Regions from separate parts of the Homo sapiens genome. Here regions 1, 3, 4 and 5 are each reported to be linked to region 2. The links are microRNA targets in miRTarBase. Many come from high-throughput screens and were not tested one by one. Region 2 holds a microRNA gene; each other region holds the end of a gene's coding sequence. Distances are between the middles of the regions.
Evidence for each region. Region 2 holds the annotated microRNA hsa-miR-7106-5p (UGGGAGGAGGGGAUCUUGGG, at 2,316-2,335, shown strand). A microRNA usually pairs through its seed, bases 2 to 8, with sites in the 3' UTR of a target mRNA and lowers its output. Matches are read on the target gene's strand: a 7mer-m8 pairs with bases 2 to 8, a 7mer-A1 pairs with bases 2 to 7 and ends in A, and an 8mer does both.

Region 1: miRTarBase lists TCF23 as a target of hsa-miR-7106-5p. Seed matches in the 3' UTR shown: 7mer-m8 at 3,370-3,376, 8mer at 3,180-3,187 and 7mer-A1 at 155-161.
Region 3: miRTarBase lists COL5A1 as a target of hsa-miR-7106-5p. Seed matches in the 3' UTR shown: 7mer-A1 at 1,169-1,175.
Region 4: miRTarBase lists ING4 as a target of hsa-miR-7106-5p. Seed matches in the 3' UTR shown: 7mer-m8 at 1,101-1,107.
Region 5: miRTarBase lists TNNI1 as a target of hsa-miR-7106-5p. Seed matches in the 3' UTR shown: 8mer at 3,001-3,008, 7mer-A1 at 3,347-3,353 and 7mer-A1 at 3,512-3,518.

Annotation. Positions count from the first base shown.
Region 1 is chr2:27,152,428-27,156,800 of GRCh38, reverse strand. It overlaps TCF23 (transcription factor 23), which reads right to left. Exons shown (of 3, transcript NM_175769.3): 3 at 1-4,113. The coding sequence ends at 3,934. Among named protein-coding and RNA genes, the nearest start is that of TCF23, 5.6 kb to the right of the region's middle. RefSeq lists an enhancer at 3,828-3,887.
Region 2 is chr12:113,157,091-113,161,487 of GRCh38, reverse strand. It overlaps MIR7106 (microRNA 7106), which reads left to right and starts at 2,311; the gene lies at 2,311-2,375. CFAP73 (cilia and flagella associated protein 73) reads right to left here. Exons shown (of 8, transcript NM_001144872.3): 7 at 3,798-3,886; 8 at 2,212-2,787. The coding sequence ends at 3,809. DDX54 (DEAD-box helicase 54) reads left to right here. Exons shown (of 20, transcript NM_024072.4): 19 at 106-218; 20 at 2,379-4,315. The coding sequence ends at 2,611.
Region 3 is chr9:134,841,245-134,845,641 of GRCh38, forward strand. It overlaps COL5A1 (collagen type V alpha 1 chain), which reads left to right. Exons shown (of 66, transcript NM_000093.5): 66 at 913-3,599. The coding sequence ends at 1,059. All of the region lies in intron 1 of LOC101448202 (a long non-coding RNA gene), which reads right to left. Among named protein-coding and RNA genes, the nearest start is that of MIR3689C, 5.9 kb to the right of the region's middle. RefSeq lists enhancers at 895-1,729, 4,041-4,397.
Region 4 is chr12:6,647,772-6,652,168 of GRCh38, reverse strand. ING4 (inhibitor of growth family member 4) reads left to right here. Exons shown (of 8, transcript NM_016162.4): 7 at 784-845; 8 at 935-1,868. The coding sequence ends at 974. Among named protein-coding and RNA genes, the nearest start is that of ACRBP, 2.5 kb to the right of the region's middle.
Region 5 is chr1:201,406,925-201,411,319 of GRCh38, reverse strand. TNNI1 (troponin I1, slow skeletal type) reads left to right here. Exons shown (of 9, transcript NM_003281.4): 8 at 885-994; 9 at 2,070-4,395. The coding sequence ends at 992. Among named protein-coding and RNA genes, the nearest start is that of LAD1, 9.8 kb to the right of the region's middle. RefSeq lists an enhancer at 2,969-3,048.

The DNA.
Region 1 (4,373 bases), not on the chromosome of region 2:
GGCTCCTCCCAGAGGAAGAGAAAAGGAGTCTCAGAGAAGGCTAGATCCTCTACTTCTCTAGTTCCCAATTTGGTAAAATCCAGTGTCCACTGTATTACTTAGAAATCACTGGGCCAGCCGGGTGCGGTGGCTCATGCCTGTAATCCCAGCACTTTGGGAGGCCGAGGCGGGCGGATCACGAGGTCAGGAGATCAAGACCATCCTGGCTAACATGGTGAAACCCCGTCTCTACTAAAAATACAAAAAAAAAAAAAAATTAGCCGGGCGTGTTGGCGGGTGCCTGTAGTCCCAGCTGCTCGGGAGGCTGAGGCAGGAGAATCGCGTGAACCCAGGAGGCGGAGCTTGCAGTGAGCCGAGATCACGCCACTGCGCTCCAGCCTCGGTGACAGAGTGAGACTCTGTCTCAAAAAACAAAAAAAAAGAAATCACTGGGCCAGCTCTGCTTCTCCCACAGCCGCATTTTTTTTTTTTTTTTAGACGGAGTTTTACTCTTGTTGCCCAGGCTGGAGTGCAATGGCACAATCTCAGCTCACTGCAAACTCCACCTCCTGGGATCAAGCAATTCTCCTGCCTCAGCCTCCCAAGTAGCTGGGGTTATAGGCATGTGCCACCACACCCAGCTAATTTCGTATTTTTAGTAGAGACAGGGTTTCACCATGTTGGTCAGGCTGGTCTTGAACTCCTGACCTCAGATGATCCACCCCCGACCCCGGCCTCCCAAAGTGCTGGGATTACAGGCATCAGCCACCACACCCAGCCCCACAGCCCCATCTAAGCCTCCACCCTGCCATCCTGTTCCTCAGAAAGCACATGCTCTGTGGAGGGAGCCAGCAGGGAAGTCTTGTTCCCCACCTCCACCTCCATCCCAATCCCAAGTCCTGGGGATGGGGCAGGTGGTGCAGGAAGACCAGGTAGGCCAGGCCAATCCCCTATGGAGCAGCTGAGCCTCCAACTCCTGAGCCAGGCCACCCTAGTGTCATTTGTCATCCATGCTCAAATGTTTTCATCCATATTTTCTTTTATTTCTTTTCTTTTCTTTTTTTTTCTTTCATTTTTTTTTCCCGAGATGGGGTCTTGCTCTGTCGCCCAGGCTGGAGTGCAGTGGCGTGATCTTGGCTCACTGCAACCTCCGCCTCCTAGGTTCAAGCAATTCTCCTGCCTCAGCCTCCCAAGTAGCTAGGATTACAGGTGCCCACTACGACATCTGGCTAATTTTTGTATTTTTAGTAAAGAAGGGGTTTCATCATGTTGGCGAGGCTGGTCTCGAACTCCTGACCTCATGATCCGCCCGCCTCGACTCCCCAAAGTGCTGGGATTACAGGCATGAGCCACTGAGCCTGGCTGTGTTTTTCTTTCTCATTGCAGAGACAAAGCGGGTTACTTCTGGTTCATTCACGCATCCAAGTCCTGACATGTCTCAAGGGCATTACTGTGCTTGTCAGGGAGGGAGGGCCCAGTCCATCCTCTGGTTATTCCCATCCATCCCCTAGGCCTTCCCTTGGCTCACCCTGCCCCCTGCCAGGCCCCTTTGCTTGCTGGCCTGACGGGGCTGGGTCTCTGTGGCTGGAGGAGATGGCCTCTGCCCCACCCCCCTCGACTGTCCTGGGCACAAAGGAGAACAGCTTTGCCTGGAAAGGGCCCAAGACACCCTGAGAAACTTGTAGCGATGGGACCTGCCTCCTGCAGCCCTCCACCTGCGTCATCCTTCCTGTGCCCTCCTTGTCTACACCAGGGCCATGCGGTCACCCCTGAGGGCTCTAATGTTACTAGGCAAAGGCCTGAGTCTGAGCAGGACAGGGTGGGGCAAGCTCCAACCCAAAGTCTACTCTATTATCAGGAGAAGCTCCATGCTATCCAGAGGACCCCGACACACACCCCAAGCCAATTTCCCTTCATCCCCAGGAAAGTGTGCCACCAACTGAGGAGGAAATGTATCTGCTTCTCTTCCTAGCACTCCCGTGAACTCAACCAGGAAGATACTGCTGTTTGGCTTTAAAAATAGTACATTCTAGCTGGACTTTTATGGTCTTGTGAAGAACACTGTGCTCATGCCCTCCCACACCTGGCCTCTGCCCCTGCCTGGCCCTGTCCAGCTGCCCACATCAGCTCTGCACAAGCTCTTCAGGGTCCCTCTGCAGAGACGTGGTTCAAGGCAGATTTACGAGTTCAGCCTTGGCCGAGGCCTTCTCCCCATGGCTCCCATCCACATTCCAGCTGTTCTCCCACATCCCAGGCAGCTCGGGGCTGGGATGTTCTGTGTCTCTTTTTCTACCTCTACCACAACTGGCTCAGTCGCACCCCCAGCCCTATTTCAGCTCTGCCCTGGCCAGCCCTGTGGAGGTACAGGGTCCTGTCATGCCAGAACCCAGACCCCAACCATTCCCAGCCTGCCCAGAGCTCACTTACATTCATGATAACAACAATGGTGTGTGTCTAAGGATAACCTTGTTGGGACTCTAGTTGGTCATGCCCGTCCCCTCCCACTCTGAAGGGCTGAAATTTAACCGAAAGGTAATTTGTTCCATCTGGACTTCAGGTGCCAGGTTTGAGGCTACATCCGATCTGGAAAGTTATTTTCAGTGTGTGTAGATTCTATGATTAGTCCTCAAGTTATTTCTTTAGGGCCAGAGATGAGTTTCACCGAAGCTATATCACATTTCTGGCACCCCATGGTAGGACTTAGAGAAAGCCCCCAAGGACGATCTCCATGAGGCGGAGCCGGCCCTAGGGAGCTAATAGACTATAGAAATAACTCCAGAGCCAGGGAAGCCTCGAACACAAATTTTACAAGGAGCCAATTGAGTGGTTGAGCAGTTGAAGGCAGGCCTATCTTGTTTTTGCTTGAGGGCAGGTTTCTAACATAATGGAAAGAGAAGACTGTAATGATCACCCCCTATATACCTGATCTTCTCTTAAGGTCCTTCAAGGATGTAATTGATTCTGTCAATATCCTTCATATTTAAGGCCATAAGTTGCTGCTTGGTTCAATTAAGGTAGAATTGCTTCTGGTTAAGATCTCAAACTAGGCATCTGGGACTATCTAAAAGTTTCTCTGGAAACTGGAATGTAAGCAATGCAAGATGTATGGCTTAACCTGTAGATATAACTCATGTCAAGAAAACAGTGGGGTTGGGCATGGTGGCTCATGCCTGTAATCCCAGCACTTTAGGAGGCTGAGGTGGGAGGATCACTTGAGGCCAGGGGTTCGAGGCCAGCCTGGGCAACATATCAAGACCCCCATCTCTACATAAAAAGAAGAAGAAACGAAAAGAAAAGAAAAGAAAAGAAAAGAGTGGAAGAGTGCAGGAGCCGAGAGGGAGAGAAAATGTAGTGGTGAGGGGCAGCTTCTGGAAAGGCCCATACTACAGAGGGAGGAATCCTGAATTCCTCACTATCTCTCTAACATCAGGTAAGCATCTCATGATGCAGTTAGAAAGCACATTTCCTTCTTCAGTTTCCCCTCTGGCTGTGTGACCCAGCCCAGATCTGTTTACACTTGGAGCTACCAGGAGCCTATCCGGCCACCTGGCTTTCCCATCAGCACCTGGGGCTGGTGCCATCCCAGGCCCCTCCCTCTGCACCTGCCTTTTTGCTATCTGCAGAGGGTTTGTAGAAACCTTAGGGGAAGAAAGCTAGGGTGGTTCCCTACCTCAACTTTGAGCCCAATTATACCTCTTTCTCTCCCACTTCCCAGTAGCTGTCACAGAAGAGCCATGGGGAAGTCCCCTCCTGGGGACCAAGGAGGAGGCTCTCCAACCTGTGCCCCTCTAGGTACTGTCCATCACAGAAGTGCTACTGCTTCTCTTGGTCTGCATGCTGGAACTTGGGAGCTGAGTCTGAGTCAAGTCTGATGGCTGAGAATCTGGGGGCTGGTAGAAAATCCAGGCCCATAAGCATGAGTCACAGTCTAGGAGAAAAGGGCGAGTGTGATAATTATTTGTCACCAAGAGCTGGTGAGAGTGGTGTGGTGGAAAGGAGAGCATCTGCCTCTCCAGGGACTTGGGACCCCACCTCTGCATCTCTTGTTCTTTGGCTGGGGGTGCTGGCTGTGGTGGAGTCAAGATCGGAGTACCCCAGGCCTCCAGCATAGAGACGAGATCGCATCGGCCACTTCTGCAAGACACAGATTGGGAAGTGAGAAATGCTGCTATTGCAGCCCTTCGTGGTCCAGGATCCTTGACACCCAAAACCCAGCCTTCTCCAGCATCCCTCCCTGACACCTTCCCCAGCCATCACTGCTCTGATCAGGGTCATCATCATGTACAGCCCCACACATTCTCCTGATCACCCAGAGCCTGGATGAGAGACACAGGAGGAGCCATCTGAGGAGGGAGAGGGCCCCAAGAAGAGCAGCGCTCTGTTGGGAGGGAGGT
Region 2 (4,397 bases):
TCAGCTGCGGCTGGGATAACGGAACTCTGTCTGCTGGGGCAGTGTGGGGAGGAGCCTTCTCCCATCCCAGGGGCTTCACGCAGCTTCCTTAACGAGGTTTCCCAGCTATCAGAAGTGGAAACAGAAACAGAAAATTGATGATCGTGACTCGGACGAAGAAGGGGCATCTGACCGGCGAGGCCCAGAGCGAAGAGGTGGGAAGCGAGACCGTGGCCAAGGTGAGAGCCAGGGTGGGGAGTGTGGGTGCACAGGTAGGCAGAGCAGTTGTGGTCAGATTAGGGTAACGCTGAGGCACAGGTGCAGGGGCTACTGCAGAGCCCCAGAGCTGGGTGTGTTGGGGTATGCTGCCAAAACCCTGGGTCCCTCCATGATCCCCCCCACCCAACCCCCACACCCACAGTTTCCCCCTTCCTACTGTCCCGGCCTCTGATGGTCACGAGCACCGCCTGACAGGCGCTGGGAAGTGCCATGCCCCTCAGGTGCCTTGTCCCCGACCCCCTTCCACTTCACAGATGAAGCTACAGGGATAACTTCTGGTAGATGCCCTGTTCACCTAATTAAGCCGATTGTGTAAAATCCTAGAGAACCCGGGAGGTGGAACCTTGTGCAAATGCAGGCCATTTTCACCTGCAAAAATGGCATTTGCATGTGGTTCGACCTGACAGTGAGCATGAATTGATTCCCTGTGGCATCCTTAGGAGTGACGTTCTTTTTAGCAATGCTGTGGGGAAGTTCATGTCACCAAAGACGCAGTCAGAAGCAGCTTTGGTTCTGGGAGGAGGCGATCACAGGGGATGTTGAGGAAGATACTTCCTTGAAATGTGGGTTGGCAAGTGGTACATTTGGTCATCTGAGGACTTGGACCTCTTTGATCTGGCCTGGGTCCCTCAGCCAGTAACAAGCTAAGGTGGATTTGAAGCCGGCTCTGTCTGCCAGAGCCTGTGCTTAAGGGCTGTTATCAGGGAGGGGCTCCCGCTTGCTGGGTGCAGGCAGGCTCTGTCCTGGAAGGCCACACATGACCTGGGAGGCAAGGTGACTGCGAATACCCATTTTACAGGCCAGGAAACAGGTGCCTTATGAGGGCTATGACTGAACCTGGGTCACCCAGCTGCCCAAGGCTCCCACCTGGAGTCTTCCCTGGGGAGAGGGGAGTTTGGGACCATGTCTTGGGTCTCTCTCAGATGGCCTTAGCCCCTGCTTGTGTCCCTCCACCTCCTGGGGCTGGTCACTGCCTCCCCTGGGTGTCTCTGTGAGCCTGCGTGCATTTGCCTGGGCCTGTTCTCTGTGGCTCCTCCCTCTCCAGCTCTCCCATCTGTGGGAGTGTCTCCTTGTCAGCATGGCTGGGTGGGGACCACCCACACCTCACTTCTCAGCCTGTTTTTACCTAGGTGAAACAGCAGCTTCTGCTGCGAGCATTGCCGTGCAGTGGGCGTGCAGGGGCTGGGGAGACGGGGGCGACCTGTGGGCTTTGGGAAAAAGCAGCTGTTCTTCCTTTGCTGTCCTCATTGGAGGTGATAGGTCCTGCGAGGCACCCTGGCTCCATTGGAGACAGCTGGGACCACCTTAATGGTCATCCCTCTAGGAGCCCTGGGGAGGCTGCTGTTATGAATGGGGAAGAGGAGGAGGAGGACACAGGGCTTAGTGGGAGCCAGGGAGGGTGGTGCTTGCCTCCCGGAGAACTAGAAGAATGGACTACCTGATGCCCACCTGTGGGGCTGGGGCAGGGTCGCTGACCTCTGCTGCTGCTGCTGCTTTGCTGTGTGATCTCAGATAAGTCCCTCTCCCTCTCTGGCCTTCTTTGATTCCTCTCCCACCTAAAGGAAGGTTCATCTACACTCTTTTTTCATCTAACAAGCCTAGAGCATGGTGTCCATGGAGACAGAGGCTGAGGTCTGTATCGGTTACTATGGGGGGCCTCAGAGCCTGGCGTGCCGTAGGTGTGCTGTGGAGACATACACTCCTTGGTTGGAGAATTTTTAATAGTAACAGTCATGCCCAAAAGGCTCCCACTATGGGACAGGCCTTGAAATTCTGACCACTTTACACCATGGAAATGCATTTACTCTTCACCCATGAGGGAGGTGCTGTGATTTATAATTCATAGATGGGGAAACTGAGGCACAGAGCCGTTAACTTCTTGCCCACGGTCCAAGAGGTCACAGCTGGGATTTGAACCCCAGCGGTTCTGGCCCCGTGTTATTGACCACTCCATGAGGCTGCCTAAAACTTTATTAGCCACCTACTGTGTACAGACACTGGGCCACAGCAATAAGCACAGAACAGGAGTAGGGGCAGGGGAGGAGTCTGCAAGCTTCTGGGAGGAGGGGATCTTGGGAGTGATCCCAACAGCTGAGCTCCCTGAATCCCTGTCCCAGCAGGTGCATCCCGGCCCCACGCCCCAGGCACCCCTGCAGGCCGAGTCCGCCCGGAACTCAAGACCAAGCAGCAGATCCTGAAGCAGCGGCGCCGGGCCCAGAAGCTGCACTTCCTGCAGCGTGGTGGCCTCAAGCAGCTCTCTGCCCGCAACCGCCGCCGCGTCCAGGAGCTGCAGCAGGGCGCCTTCGGCCGGGGTGCCCGCTCCAAGAAGGGCAAGATGCGGAAGAGGATGTGAGGACCAGGACCCAGCCCCGTGGCTCCTTGATTGGCCTTAGGGTGGGCATCAGCAGACGTTCCCGTGCACCACTGTGTGCCTGGCCCTGTGCTGGGCACTGGGGGCACTCCCTGCAGGAGCCATCATCTGTGAAAAGGAGCACTGTATGGCCACAGAAGGGCAGCAGCTGCGTCAGCCTAAGACAGAGACATTTGAACAGGGCCTTGAAGGGTGTGCAGGAGTTCGCCAGCAAAGCCAGGCAGGCCAAGACTTGAGTTGGCAACTCAGCTGCTGCTGCTTCCATGTGTTCTGGGTTCAGAGGTCATGGCTGCACCGGTCAGAGCCCTGAGTGCCTCAGGGTTTGGCAATGGAATTTTTAATGTAATAAATCTTTATTGAGCACTGCTGGTGGCCAGGAGTGCGGTCTACTTGGGGAACTGGAATGGAGAGACCCAGGTACTAAAATCCCAGCTAACGTGGCAGAGGAGTTGCGGGTCTCCTGAGGGTGAGTTCTGCTGCCTTGTCCATTTAGCGATGAGGAAAGTGAAGCTCAGAGCACAAACCAGGTGCCAGAGGCGGGAGTTGGTCCCCCTTCCTCCCACTGGACATGGTTGCAGCTGGGAGTGGGCTGGGGGAGGGGAACAGGATGCCCAGCCCAGGGGGCAAGGACACAGCTGCTCCCCTCTGGCTATGAAGAGGTTAACGCGGCCCCTCCACACCTGGAGGTCAGAACCTGGCCTGTCCTCTGTCTTCTTGCCACCCACCCCCTGTTTGAGGTTCTGAGAAGGTCAAGGGCAGCCCCAGCAGCTGGATTCTCAGGCTGGGCCCCTCACCTGGCAGAGTCCATAGTGGAGGGGGCCTTGGTGATCTCTCATCTAGCATGGACCCTGTTCTGAGACCTGACAAAGAGTTTTTTTTCATGCCCCAACCACCCTGGCAGGGAGGGCCTGGTCTGATCTCATTTTAGAGGCAGTTGCCCCACACATAGCCCCTTGACCTTCCCATCACCTCCTCATCAGGGCCTGCATTTATGGAGTGCTTGCTATGTGCCCCTCATGGCAGGCCCACAGCACTCTGAACAGGCACAGCCCTCCCATCTTCCCAATGAGGAAACGGATTCAGGAAGAGCCACTCAGTCCACACCCCATTGGAAATGTGGGCCCTCCTATCTCAGGGTCTCTCAGGGGTTCCCTCTCCCGCTGCTCACCTGTGTCAGGGCTAGGAGGCAGGGGCTGCAGGCTCAGCCTGACCCAGGCCGGCCAGCATGGCAGAGAGGTCCTGCATGAACAGCTTCACCTGGGGGGGCCCAGCACGAAGTCACATCCCAGCCCCAGAGTCACTGTCCAGCCCCCACCCCTCAACACGCGGGGGAGGCCGAAAGGTAGGGCGGGGACTGGAGATCCCCTCATTAAAAGAACAGTGATGATGGTGGTTCCCAGAGGTGGTGACTGAGATCCTAAACCGTTCTGGGTTTTGAAAGCCTCAGGCCAACCTTCCCAACTGCTGCGTGAGCAGACACCTTCACAGCTTCCTCGCTGCTGTCACCTGCACTATCCAATTAGTATTTTCATTTACATCAATCAGCTTTATTTTCTTGTAACTGGATCAGTCATATTCATTGGTTTGTGACCTACTCTTATCTCCGTGGGTGGCTCTCCTTTTGTTTTAATTAACTTCTTTATGAATATGAACTTAATAAATACCATGGATCCATTGTAAAAACTAGAACTTGAGGGTGAACTTACAACCATCTGTGGGCTCCCCCTCATATTCATCACCGTATCAACAGCTGAGAAGGAAACTTTTT
Region 3 (4,397 bases), not on the chromosome of region 2:
CTGGTTTGCGGGAAAGGTGCGGCCTCCAGGGCCCTTGTCTTGGGGGAAGTTGACGGGACAGCAGGGCCAGCTCAGCCTCAGTTATAAAGAACACTGGGAGTTATATTTGGGTGGCTTTGGGGAGGGACCAAAGAATCTCACACCTGCGCTGCCTGTGTTCTGGGAGGGAGGCGGCCTCTCCTAGGCTTCCATCCCACATCCCAGCGCCCAGGGTTGTGCTGTTTTGAGCAAGGGATGGGTGCTGACTCATCCTGCAGGCCAGGTTCATTGCACTACCCCTGCCCTCTGTGCCTCAGTTTACCTAAGACTCCTCTAGACCAGATGGTGTGGAAGGTCCCCACCCCTTCCCATACTTGTGGAGGTGAAGACCCAGCCCACCGAGTGCCTAAGGCAGTGTGTGGCAGGTGGTCGTAGGGGGGTCTTACTTGGCTCAAGGCTCTGCCGGTGCCGCCTCGGACTCCTTCCTTTTCGAACCTGGAGCCCCCGTTTGATTTTCCAGTGTGCCCTGCTTGTTCTGTAGCTGGCCCTGGGTCCTGGGGAGGCTGCCTGGAAGTGAATACCTGGGGCATCACAAGGAGTCTGGACTGGGCACGGTGGGAAGGCTGATCAGCTTCAATCCTGTGTGTGCCTCAGCCACCCCTGAAGCCTTGGGAGGGTCCTGTCGCCTCGCTGATGCCCACACCACCCCACCTCCGACCTGTGCAGGGGGACTCTTGGGACATCCACCGGGGTTAAATGCATGCTCTGATCAGCCATATTTCCTCCAACACTTGCCCGGGCAAGCGCAGCCCTGGGTAGGAGACAGGACACCAGCCTGGGTTTTGGAGCCAGACAGATTGTGGGGGGTGATTGGTAAACCCCAAGACCCCCAACTGTTCTTAACCACCGGCCATCTGTCTCCCTCTTCCCCAGACCAAGAAAGGCTACCAGAAGACGGTTCTGGAGATCGACACCCCCAAAGTGGAGCAGGTGCCCATCGTGGACATCATGTTCAATGACTTCGGTGAAGCGTCACAGAAATTTGGATTTGAAGTGGGGCCGGCTTGCTTCATGGGCTAGGAGCCGCCGAGCCCGGGCTCCCGAGAGCAACCTCGTGACCTCAGCATGCCATTCGTTCGTGAGTGTCCCGTGCACGTCCTGACCCTGGACAGTGAAGGCTTCTCCCTCCCCTCCCACCTGACTTCATCTACGCCTCGGCACCACGGGGTGTGGGACCCCAGCCCGGAGAGAACAGAGGGAAGGAGCCGCGCCCCCACCTGGAGCTGAATCACATGACCTAGCTGCACCCCAGCGCCTGGGCCCGCCCCACGCTCTGTCCACACCCACGCGCCCCGGGAGCGGGGCCATGCCTCCAGCCCCCCAGCTCGCCCGACCCATCCTGTTCGTGAATAGGTCTCAGGGGTTGGGGGAGGGACTGCCAGATTTGGACACTATATTTTTTTCTAAATTCAACTTGAAGATGTGTATTTCCCCTGACCTTCAAAAAATGTTCCAAGGTAAGCCTCGTAAAGGTCATCCCACCATCACCAAAGCCTCCGTTTTTAACAACCTCCAACACGATCCATTTAGAGGCCAAATGTCATTCTGCAGGTGCCTTCCCGATGGATTAAAGGTGCTTATGTTTTTGTGAGTTTTAAGTAAATATTTGTATTGTATTGTTATAAATGTTAAGTGTGCCTGGCTTTCAATCATGCACGGAAACCCAGTCTCAGTCCCACGGACAGAATGGGCGAGGCATGGATTCTGGGTTGCAGTACCGTTCTGATTAGAAATAGGAAGTCTCCCCACCCCCGCCCTGGCCAAGAACGTGCAATAAATTGGAAGTTTGCCCCGGGGCAGCAAGAATTTATGCTGCCATTGAAAAGCAGGTACCAGTGCCCCTTTTCAGACAGTTTTTGATTCGCTCTAGACTTTTTTTTTTTTTAATAGGGAAAAAATTTGATAATTTTCTTTTTTCTACATGCACTTAAGACTAAAACACAGGTTTGGATTAATTTTATTTGCTTCCTTTTTCCGCTTTTCTTCCCGCAGAGCCTGATGGGAGAATGTCCAGGGCAGGGAAACCACATTTTTTGTAGGTGATAACTCAATGAAAATTGGTGCTTATTTTTTACACTTCTCTCTTGTGGCTCTCTTGTGGTGCTATCTATCTGTTTTAAGGTCTCCTTGAAGGCGCACTGGGGACCCTGGCCATGCCTCGTTCTCCCTGCTTTCTTTATCCTGTTATTGCCTCCACAGTCTGTTGCCAAGGACTCTAAGATCAATGCACGTCACTTTCCTTTCCACTGGGCAGGATAGCCAAGCACACTCCCTCCTGCGCTCTCCCGCCCCGGTGCGTCCACTCCCGAGGGCTGTTATGAGGACTGGGTTGTGCCTACTTGATTTGAAAACACACACAAGCAATAAAAAGCCTCTTCCTGCATTGTCTGTGGTGTGACCATAGCAGATTATATTTGGTTCCTGAATGTTTGTGGTGCTAATTTCTGTGTTTGTTCCAAGCCGTTCAGTCATGCCATGCGCTGCCTCGGTAGATGGAGTAATGTACAATGAACTCCATGAGTCTCTCCAGGGCTGCCTGCAGCACGTCTTTTCCAAGTAGCCTATTTGGATTCCCATCTCAAATGTCCTGGATGCGAGCGTCAGCGGCTCCAGAGCTCGGGGCGGGTGAGGTCCCCTTTGGGGAACCCTTTCCTGGCCATCGAGGTCGGGGGGCTGCCGTCTGTGGGCAGGAGGACCCGAGGGGCAGCCAGGAAAGGCGATCTCTTCACTGTGAAAAGTTGCCCGGGTGCAGCGCCTTTTCCTTCTACCATGGGAAATGCAGGCTGGGCCCTTGGGGTGAGCCTGCGGGGCTCTGGTGCTGTCCCCGACCCCCACCACCACCAGAATGCAGTTCCAGCTTAGGAAGCCACAAACAAGCCACCCAGGAGGAACAAAACACCGCCAGCGTGGATTTTCCAAATTTCCCTGGAAAGTAAGTCTCGCTCTTGCCAAAGAAAAGTCTGGCTTGGAGAGTCTCTGGAGCCCAGGATGCCAGCATGTGCCAATGACTGTCACCTTCATCTCTTCAAAAGAAAAGCCATAGCCGAGGACTGTCCCGCGACCCCCGTGGACTGCGTCTAGGTCATGTGATTCTGTTTTCATTTCTCATCCCATCCAATTTGTCCTTTTCTCCTGTCATTTTCTTCCTCTGTGGTCCCTTCAAAGTTGTTATAATTTGTACTGAACTTCAAAATGTGTCCCGTTCTCCCCAGACCACTCTAGCCACAGTATATTGCAATAAAATTACTTCTTATATTTGCAGAAATTCTTTTGGTGTAATTTTATTTTTTCCTCTCAATATATATAATTGGACAAACGCTGGCAAAAAGAAAAAAATGGTAAGCAAAAAACCCAAGATAAAGTTTCGAGGACATCAGGCCTTTTGAAATACAATGTCAAATGACACATTGTACGGTTTCAAAAAATCCGCTAGACATGTCATAAGTTTTAACTGTAATGCCCAGGAAAGGATATCTTAAAATATTCTAAACTTGTGTAACAAAGGAATAATTAACTGTAATAGTTTTTCAATAAATCGAGTTGGGTGTTTCCACCGTAAACAGATGTGAGTGACTCTCTTCTTAAGTGTGGCCAGGCCCCTCCCAGACAGGACTGCACACAGTCCCAGGACGCTAGGAGCTCTGGAGATAACCACACTGGCCACCCAGAGAAAGGAAGGGATGGCCCCGGCTGTCCTTAGGTGGAGCTTGTCCCTCAGGAGTGGCCAAGGCTGGCATGGACAGCTTTGTGCCCTTGGGAGGATGTTAGAACGTAACCGGGCACTAGCCCGAGAAGTGAGTTTCAGCCACTGCTGGGTGTCCACACCACCGTGTACTGTCCTCACTCTTCACTCCTGGCAGTCAGCACCCTGCGAGAATGTTCTTGAAGCTCTCCAGCACTGCCCTTCCAGCTGTGTAGCAGGATTAGACTCCCTAGCTCCTTGTGGCTAGAGGTCGGGGAAGGCACGGGGCTCGTTGCAGCCGATGACCTTGAGCCCACGTGGCATTCGCCTCTTCCGGTCTGAAGGTGTGGTTCCCTCGGGCACAGCACCAGCCATGTTTCGTGGAGGGGCTACGTCACCAGCAGGTTCCCTGAGTGAGCCCCCTGCCAGCTTGTGAGAACTGGTAGCAGGAGCAGGAGAAGCACATTTTTGTTTTATTAAAGCCACTGATGTCAGGGACTGTTGATTACTCTGCCGAATAACCTAGGCCAGTGGGTCTCCAGCAGGGTCCGGGGAATGGCAGCAATGGCACCACCTTGTTAGAAGTGCCAGTCCCTGAGCCCCATCCCAGACCTGCTGGCCCAAATGTTGTGGGAGAGCTGAATCATCTGAAAGCAGGTCTCTGAGCAACTCTGCT
Region 4 (4,397 bases), 110 Mb from region 2:
AGAAAGATGGGCTGGACGTAGTAGCTCTTGCCTGAAATCCCAGCACTTTGGGAGGCTGAGGCGGGCAGATCACGTGAGGTCAGGAGTTTGAGACCAGCCTGGCCAACATAGTGTAACCCCTTCTCTACTAAAAATACAAAAATTAGCTGAGCATAGTGGCACACGACTGTCATCCCAGCTACTCGGGAGGCTGAGGCGAGAGGCAGGAGAATTGCTTGAACCTAGGAGGCAGAGGTTGCAGTGAGCTGAGATCACGCCACCACACTCTAACCTGGGCGACAAGAGCAAGACTCTGTCTCAAAAAAAAAAAAAAAAAAAAAGCCTGAAAGCCTGGCGCTGTGGCTCACGCCTGTAATCCCAGCACTTTGGGAGGCCAAGGTGAGCAGATCACTTGAGATCAGGAGTTCGAGACTGGCCTGGCCAACACGGTGAAACCCCGTCTCCACTAAAAATACAAAAATTAGCCAGGCATGATAGCCTGTGCCTGTAATCTCAGCTGCTTGGGAGGCTGAGGCAGGAGAATAGCTTGAACTCGGGAGGCGGGGGTTGCAGTGAGCTGAGATCATGTCATTGCATTCCAGCCTGGGCAACAGAGTGAGACTCTGCCTCAAAAAGAAAAAAAGAATAGAAGGAAGATGGTGGGAACTGGTTGGCCTTGGGACTTCCAAGAATTCTCCAAAAGGATGGAGTAAAGGACAGGATGTTCCTAAGGAATCTGGAGGGGCTTTCTCTCCTTCCTCTGGCCCTTCCTGGCCCCTGACTACTTCTTTCTTCCTCTTCCAGTGTTCCATTGAGTGGTTCCATTTTGCCTGTGTGGGGCTGACAACCAAGCCTCGGGGGAAATGGTAAGTGGCAGGAGTTGGAGGGTCCCTAAGTTGAGTGGTCAAGGGCATTCTCCCTTTCACTCACTTTTCTCTCCCCTTCTCTGTTTCAGGTTTTGCCCACGCTGCTCCCAAGAACGGAAGAAGAAATAGATAAGGGCCTTGGATTCCAACACAGTTTCTTCCACATCCCCTGACTTGGGCTAGTGGGCAGAGGAATGCCTGTGCTGGGGCCAGGGGTTCAGGGAGGAGTGGATGGCACAGTGCTGTCATCCCTTCTCCTCCCCTCTCCCCACTCCCGGTGCTGAGGCTGCATCAGACCCTGGTAGGGAGGGGTGCCGCAGCCACTAACGGTATGTGCTCTCCTTCAGCCCTCTCCCTTCGGAGGGACGTGGTCTTGCCCACTGTCCTTTTGCCTCCATGCTGAGGTCGGTGCTGTATTTCAGAGGGAGGGTCCTTTTCATTCTCCTTGCTTTGTATTTAAGGACTGGGGCATAGCATGGGGGCAGTCCCCCAGACCTCTTCATTCCCCCTCCTGTGGTGAGGGCTAGGTGTGATCAACACTTTTCTTCTCCATTCCCTTCCTGCTTTTTTCATGGTGGGGGATCCACCAGGTCATCTAGGCTCTGGCCCTAGTTGAAGGGGCACCCCTTCCTCTGTGCCAAGAGGATTCATCCTGGGAGAGGGGGCAAGGTGGAATGCAGATAACTCACATGTAAAAGGAACTTGGGTAGGTAAATAAAAGCTATACATGTTGGCCTGCTGTGTTTATTGTAGAGACACTGTTTTAGTAAACATGCTGAGCATTCATTTTGCGTCCTCTGGGTTGGATGCAATGTGAGAGGATGGCATGCCAGAATTAGGACACGACATGAAACCAGAGTGGTGCCTCTGTCCGAGAACTTGTAAGTTCTCAACTTGGGAAAGACAGAGGTGCTGGAGGGTAGGCCTCAGACCAGGGGGTCTCCAAAACTTTGTAAATCATGCATCTTTTCTCCATAAAACATCTTTCACTTAATTTCCAATAAATGATGTATTTGTGCTATACATACGTACTGCTATACTATACATTAGCTTGACTTCTTTTTTTTTTTCCTTTGAGGCGAAGTCTCACTCTGTTGCCAGGCTGGAGTGCAGTGGCGTGATCTTGGCTCACTGCAGTCTCCGCCTCCGGGTTCAAGTGATTCTCCTGCCTCAGTCTTACAAGTAGCTGGGACTACAGGCACATGCTACCACGCCCAGCTAATTTTGTATTTTTAGTAGAGACAGGGTTTCACCGTGTTGGCCAGGATGGTCTCCATCTCTTGACCTCATGATCTGCCTGCCTTGGCCTCCCAAAGTGCTGGGATTACAGGCGTGAGCCACAGCACCCAAGCTGATTTCTTTTTTTCATTTTTTAAAATTTTTTTTAAAGTAGGCCAGGCCCGGTAGCTCACGCCTGTAATCCCAACACTTTGGGAGGCCAAGGGAGGTGGATCACCTGAGGTCAGGAGTTCAAGACTAGCCTGGCCAACATGGCGAAACCCGGTCTCGGCCAAAAATACAAAAATTAGCTGGGCGTGGTCATGGGTGCCTGTAATCCCAGCTACTCGAGAGGGTGAGGCAGGAGAATCGCTTGAACCTGGGAGGCAGAGGTTGCAGTGAGCTGAGATTGTACCACTGCACTCCAGCCTGGGCGATAGAGTGAGACTCCGTCTCAAAAAAATAAATAGGCTGGGTGCGGTGGCTCACACCTGTAATCCCAGCACTCTGGGAGGTTGAGGTGGGTGGATCACCTGAGGTCCGGAGTTCGAGGCCAGTCTGGCCAACATGTTAAAACCCCATCTCTACTAAAAATACAAAAATTAGCCAGATGTGGTGGCATGTGCCTATAATCCTAGCTACTTGGGAGGTTGAGGCAGGAGAATCACTTGAACCCAGGAGGCAGAGATTGCACTGTGCTGAGACCAGCCATAATTTTTGTATTTTTAGTAGAGACTGGGTTTCACCCTTTTTTTTTTTTTGAGATGGAGTCTCACTCTGTCATGCAGGCTGGAGTGCAGTGGCGTGATTTCGGCTCACTGCAACCTCCATCTCCCGAGTTCAAGCAATTCTCCTGCCTCAGCCTCCCGAGTAGCTGGGACTACAGGCACATGCCACCACGCCTGGCTAATTTTTTGTATTTTTAGTAGAGACAGGGTTTCACCGTGTTAGCTAGGATGGTCTTGATCTCCTGACCTCGTGATCTGCCTGCCTTGGTCTCCCAAAGTGCTAGGATTACAGGCATGAGCCATCGCACCGGCCAAGTTTCACCATTTTGGCCAGGCTGGTCTCAAACTCCTGGCCTCAAGAGATCCACCCTCCTTGGCCTCCCAAAGTGCTGGAATTCCAGGAATGAGCCACAGTGCCTGGTCTCTATTTTATTAATTTATTTTATTTTATTTTATTTTTGAGACAGGGTCTCACTTTGTCACCCAGGCTGGAGCACAGTGGTGAGATCTCAGCTCACTGCAGCCTTGACCTCTGAAGACTCAGGTGATCCTCCTACCTCAGCCTCCCCAAGTAGTAAGTGGGACAACAGGCGCACACCACCACACCTGACAATTTTTGTATTTTTTGTAGAGACAGGGTTTCGCCATGTTGCCCAGGCTGGTCTGGAACTCCTGGGCTCAAGGAATCCACCCGCCTTGACTTCCCAAATGCTGGGATTACAGGCGTGAGCCACCAAGTCTGGCCCAAGACAATTTCTTGTTTTATTTTTCTTTTTTACTTTTGCTTTTGGGTGGGGACAGGGTCTCACTTTGTCACCCAGGCTGGAGAGCAGTGGCCCGATTGCACCTCACTGCAGCCTTGGCCTCATGGGCTCAAGCGATCCTCCCATCTCAGCCCCCCAAGAAACTGGGACTACAGGCACGTGCCACCACGCTTGGCTAATTTTTTGTACTTTTTGTAGAGACGAGGTTTCGCCCTGTTGCCCAGGCTGGAATTTCTCATTTTAAACACAAAACAGATACAAAAGCAAAAGTTCTCCTCCCATACCTCAGTGGACTGTCTTACTCGATTCTCCCTTGGAAACCACTTTCGTAGACCACTGAGCCACCCTCTTGTTTTCCCCTTGGACCCATTTTGCTCATGGAGGCGCCCTGTCTAGTTCCTACCCAGATAGGCCTTGACTTGGTTTTGCACATTCTATCTCTGCCTGCGCTTAGCTCTAGACCTCACGACCTGTTTGTTGGGCGAGTTGCTTCCCTAAGCCCCGATTTCTCATCTGTAAAACGAATGATAGTGTATCTACCTTATGGGATTCCTATGGCAATTACGTAAGGTAGTGCATGTAAAGATGCTAAGTGGCTGGCTACGGTGGCTCACACCTGTAATCCCAGCACTTTGGGAGGCCGAGGTGGGCAGATCATTTGAAGTCAGGAGTTCAAGACCAGCCTGGCCAACATGGTGAAACCCAGTCTCTACTAAAAATACAAAAATTAGGCCGGGCATGGTGGCTCACGCCTGTAATCCCAGCACTTTGGGAGGCCGAGGTGGGCGGATCACAAGGTCAAGAGATCGAGACCATCTGGCCAGCATGGTGAAATACCATCT
Region 5 (4,395 bases), not on the chromosome of region 2:
CTACCAGCTTTCCCCTTGTCAACCCCTCACATGGCCTCAGGCTGGCCCAGGAGCTCCTGTTGGAGACCAGTCAGCTTGACAGACAGAACATTCTAGAATGCTTTGGGAGACCAGTGTGGGAAGAAAGAAAGAAGATTTGCTCCCTTCCTTCAGGCTGTTCCCAGTCTGACGAAGAAACTAGGACATAAAGAAAGCTAGACCCCAGACGGAGAAATGAAGTAAAAATCTTGTTCCCAGTGTGAAGATAATGTGGAGATTTAGGGTAATGGTGGAGATGACTGCCTGGTCACCACAGGGAAAGGAGACAGCAGCTCATCTTGGTTATAGCCACACACGAGCATAGACATTAGAGAACTGAGTTCAACCACCCAGCAACAAATTATTCAAAGTTGGTTGAATTCACAGTATATGTGCCCCAAATTGATAGGCTCTGTAAGGAACAGGGATGAAGGAACAGTCTCTGGCCCAAGAAGCTTCAGAGGAGAAGAGATAAGCCAGACAATATACTGAGGAAATGGAAAAGCAGCCGCATTTGCAGGGGAAGACTTCTTGGAAGAGGTGGCCTTGAGCCTGCTGAGTGCCAGACCAGGAGGGTGGCATGGAGCCTTGGAGGAGGTTTTGCTGAGGTGCACTGAGGTGGGAACTAGCCCCATAGCTGCCACTTTCACCCAGTGCTCCCAAGCCACACAGCTTCCTTTTTCCTGTGGGGCCTCGGCTTGGCCTGTGTCCACCTGCCTGGCTGAGTCCTAGGACCTTACCAGCTGGGGAGGGGCATCAGGATTTCTTATCATCCGAGGAGACTGGTTTCCTATCACCCAGCTTCTCTTGAGCTGGGGGGCCGTCCAGCCTGGTAAGTCCCTGATGTGTGTGCCACTTGTCTACAGGAGCGGCCTGTGGAGGTGGGTGACTGGAGGAAGAACGTGGAGGCCATGTCTGGCATGGAAGGCCGGAAGAAGATGTTTGATGCCGCCAAGTCTCCGACCTCACAATAGAGGTACCTAGAGACCAGCTCCCTTCTCTGGGGTCCATCAGAGTCTAGAGGATAATGAGGGAGTCCACAATGGGCAGGCGGGTTGTACTTAGTGTGGTGCACGGATGCACGGACTAAGGCACCGATGAGACTGATTTGAGTCGGCTCTCCTGGGCTCAGTCCTGGCTCCAGCACCATGATACTTGGGCATGTCATTTCTGTTTGGCGGCCCTTTTTGTTCCCATTATCTATGAAATTGGGGGCTGTATCAAATCAGTGGTTCTCCAAGTGTGGTCCTGGGACCAGCAGCGTCTACATCACCTGGGATGCAAATGATCAGCCCCCACCCCAGATCCACTAAATTGGAAACTCTGGGGTGAGGCCAGCCTTCTAGGTGATTCTGATGCACATGAGAGTTTGAGAACCACTAGGTTAGAGGGTCCCTGGGATCCCTTCATCTCTGACTTTCTGAGAATCTATGCACTTTTAAATACCTCCTGGTGATGTCCTTTATTTGTGCTCCCTGCGAAGTACCCAGCACTCACAGTACCTGTTCCCAAGGAGCTACCACTCACAGAAGCTAAGACTTCCCACCATCTGAGGAAATAGCTGGAGAAACTGGGCAAAGCAAGGAAATCAGGCCACGTAAAACCCTCTACGGAAGTGCTGAGAGAATGTGCAATAGGGCAGGCATCCACCAGACAGCACTGGTCAGAGCAGGCTTTCTGGAGAGGAGGAGCTCTCTGAGGATGCGACGAGCGAGTGTTAGCTGATAAAGGGAAGGGCATGTTGAAGGGCTGATGGTGCAACAGAAGCATGGAGGTGGGAATTAAGCAGCCACAGAGTAGCATGGCAAGGCTAGGTAAGAGCTGAGGGCCGCAGTGTGGAGGAGCGGTGTGAGGGGTCCCAAAAGGGGAGCAACTGTGCCCGAGGGCCGAGAAGCTGAGGTTTTGTAGGAGCCCTTATGAATGAAGATCCAGTCCGGGGTGCGCTAGGGCTGAGAAGCCCTGGGGACTGCATGTGCTGTAGGTAAGTCAGGGATTCATGCGCTGCACACAGGTCCCCGGGAACTGATGGCTTTGCCTCTTTGTCCCTACAGGCCAGCTTGCTGTGCTGCGCTCTGAGCTCCTGCTTCATGCTTCTTCTCCAACCCAGCTCACTCACCTCTCTGCCTGTGTCTGGAGCATCCCTTCCCACCTCTCCCCCACTTCTTCCCTCCAGCCTGCATGCCCTCCTCTGGAACTGGGATTAAACAGATACCCAAGAGGCAGGAAAAACGCGAGTGTCTGAAGACCTCACCCTGGCAGGGTGGGCTTCTATCCACCCATGAGGCACCTGGGGCTTCTCAGCCACCCCGTGGTGTAACAAGTGGAGGAGGAGGAGGGGGTGAGAACACCTTTCCTCCAGCCCTGTGCCACACTCCTTCTATGTGTGTACAGTGTCCACAGGCATCACACCTTCTTCATTAAAAACCCAGTTTCCTGGTCATTTCTGCAGCTCTGACTGTGAGCCCTGAGAAGAAAGGGAAGACTTGGGGCTTGGGAAGAGAGGGCTGTGCTGGGCTCCAGTCACCCTGTCTGCAGTCCGGAGCTCGGGATCTGAAGGGAGGGCTAAGGAATTGGTGGCTGCTTGCCAGGGTCCCCTGGGGCCCCTTCTGCCCAGTCCCTGTGACGTCACACTGCACACACTCACCACCCAGGATGCTCAGCTCACCAGAGCCCTGACCTCCGAGAAATGACCCCGTCCTGCCCCTGACTCTGGCCATCAGAAGAGGCCTCTCCATTAAGAGCCGCTTCTCCTGCCGGCTTTCATACTCTCCTTCCTCTGCAAACCTGGATTAACTCTCCCTGATGTGTGCTGGGTTGAGAGGTCAGGGCACTTTCAATCCCTCACCTAGTCCTGCTGCACAGGGCAGGAGGCCTCACAGAAGAGATACTTGCAGTTCCAGGCCTGGCCACCAGGTGACGCCTTCCTTCTCTCCTGGGCTCTCCTGTCCCTCCGGCCTCTGCTCTCCCCACGTTCACCCACCCTCCTCCCAATTGTTTCCCCTTCACACTCCTGCACTGGTCCTATCCCCCAGGACTGATTCTTTCCCGGAGATGGGGTGGCCACTTATCTGTCCTCTGGATCAGGTCCTTTCTCCATCCCACTACCTCCTGGGTCCAAAGCCTGGTGAGAGCATAGGGCCTTCTGGGGTGGAAGGGGGGTCTGGGGCAGCCTCTCTTCCCCCAACATACTCACTAGAGTGGCTCCTGTGAAGCAGAGACCAAAGTTCTGACTTTTCTTTTTCCTTTTTTTTTTTTTTTTGAGATGGAGTCTCGCTGTGTCACCCAGGCTGGAGTGCAGTGACGCGATCTCGACTCACTGCAACCTCCGCCTCCCAGGTTCAAGCGATTCTCCTGCTTCAACCTCCTGAGTAGCTGGGATTACAGGTGCGTGCCACCACACCCCGCTAATTTTTGTATTTTTAGTAGAGACAGGGTTTCACCATGTTGGTCAGGCTGGTCTCGAACTCCTGACCTCGTAATCTGCCCACCTCGGCCTCCCAAAGTTCTGGGATTACAGGTGTGAGCGACCACATCCGGTCAAGTTCTGACTTTTCAGGGCAGTGGGATGGTGACTTCTGAGCTAAGCCTGCAAGGGAAGTGGCTGTTCCCAGACCTGGGGTCCCTTGGCTTTTCGACCACCCTAGCACTGGCCCTAGGAGGGGCTGAGTTATCAGAGCAGCAACCCTTCTACCCACCCTACTGAGTCCCCATTCTACCTTCGAATCCCATGTATTATCTTCCATAAGTGCCAGAAATTGGTACAAAGTGCAGTGCCAGCTGCTCCCCAGGGCATGGTCTGGCTCTCTGGGCTGCTGGGCTGCCAGCCCCTTTCAGAAAGCATGGCAGTGGGAACCAGCAACTTGGGCTACCTTAGGGGAAGCAGCACTCTGCCCAGGGTTCTTGCTATAAATAGGTCAGTGGGCAGAGAGGCAGATGTGTGCAAAAAGCACAACCCCAATCACACACAGAAACCCGTAGGCACGGACACACCCAGTCTCAATGCACGAAGTTGGAGAACCTGACAGGGCTGGTCCAGGCCACAGAGGATGGGGTTAGGCTTCATGCCTTCATGCCCAGGCAGCCACAGAAACCCACTCTTCCCCGCCTCACAGGGCTCCTCCGGTTGGCCTGGATCCAAAGCGATCTCCTTGTTTCACCTCTTTCCAGCTCTTCCCTAGAGCCTGGCCCCAAGTTCCAGAGTCAAATCCCAGTTTTGCAGTCAACTATTAACCTGGGGCCCTGGCAGATTGGGGTATCCACCCAGTCATGTAAAGGCAGGAGACCTGCTCTGGGCCTGACTCAAAGCAAACACGTGGGTGCAGAAGACCCATGGGAGGAGGAGGTGGGGCCCACTCAACACACCTAAGCCAGTGGCCC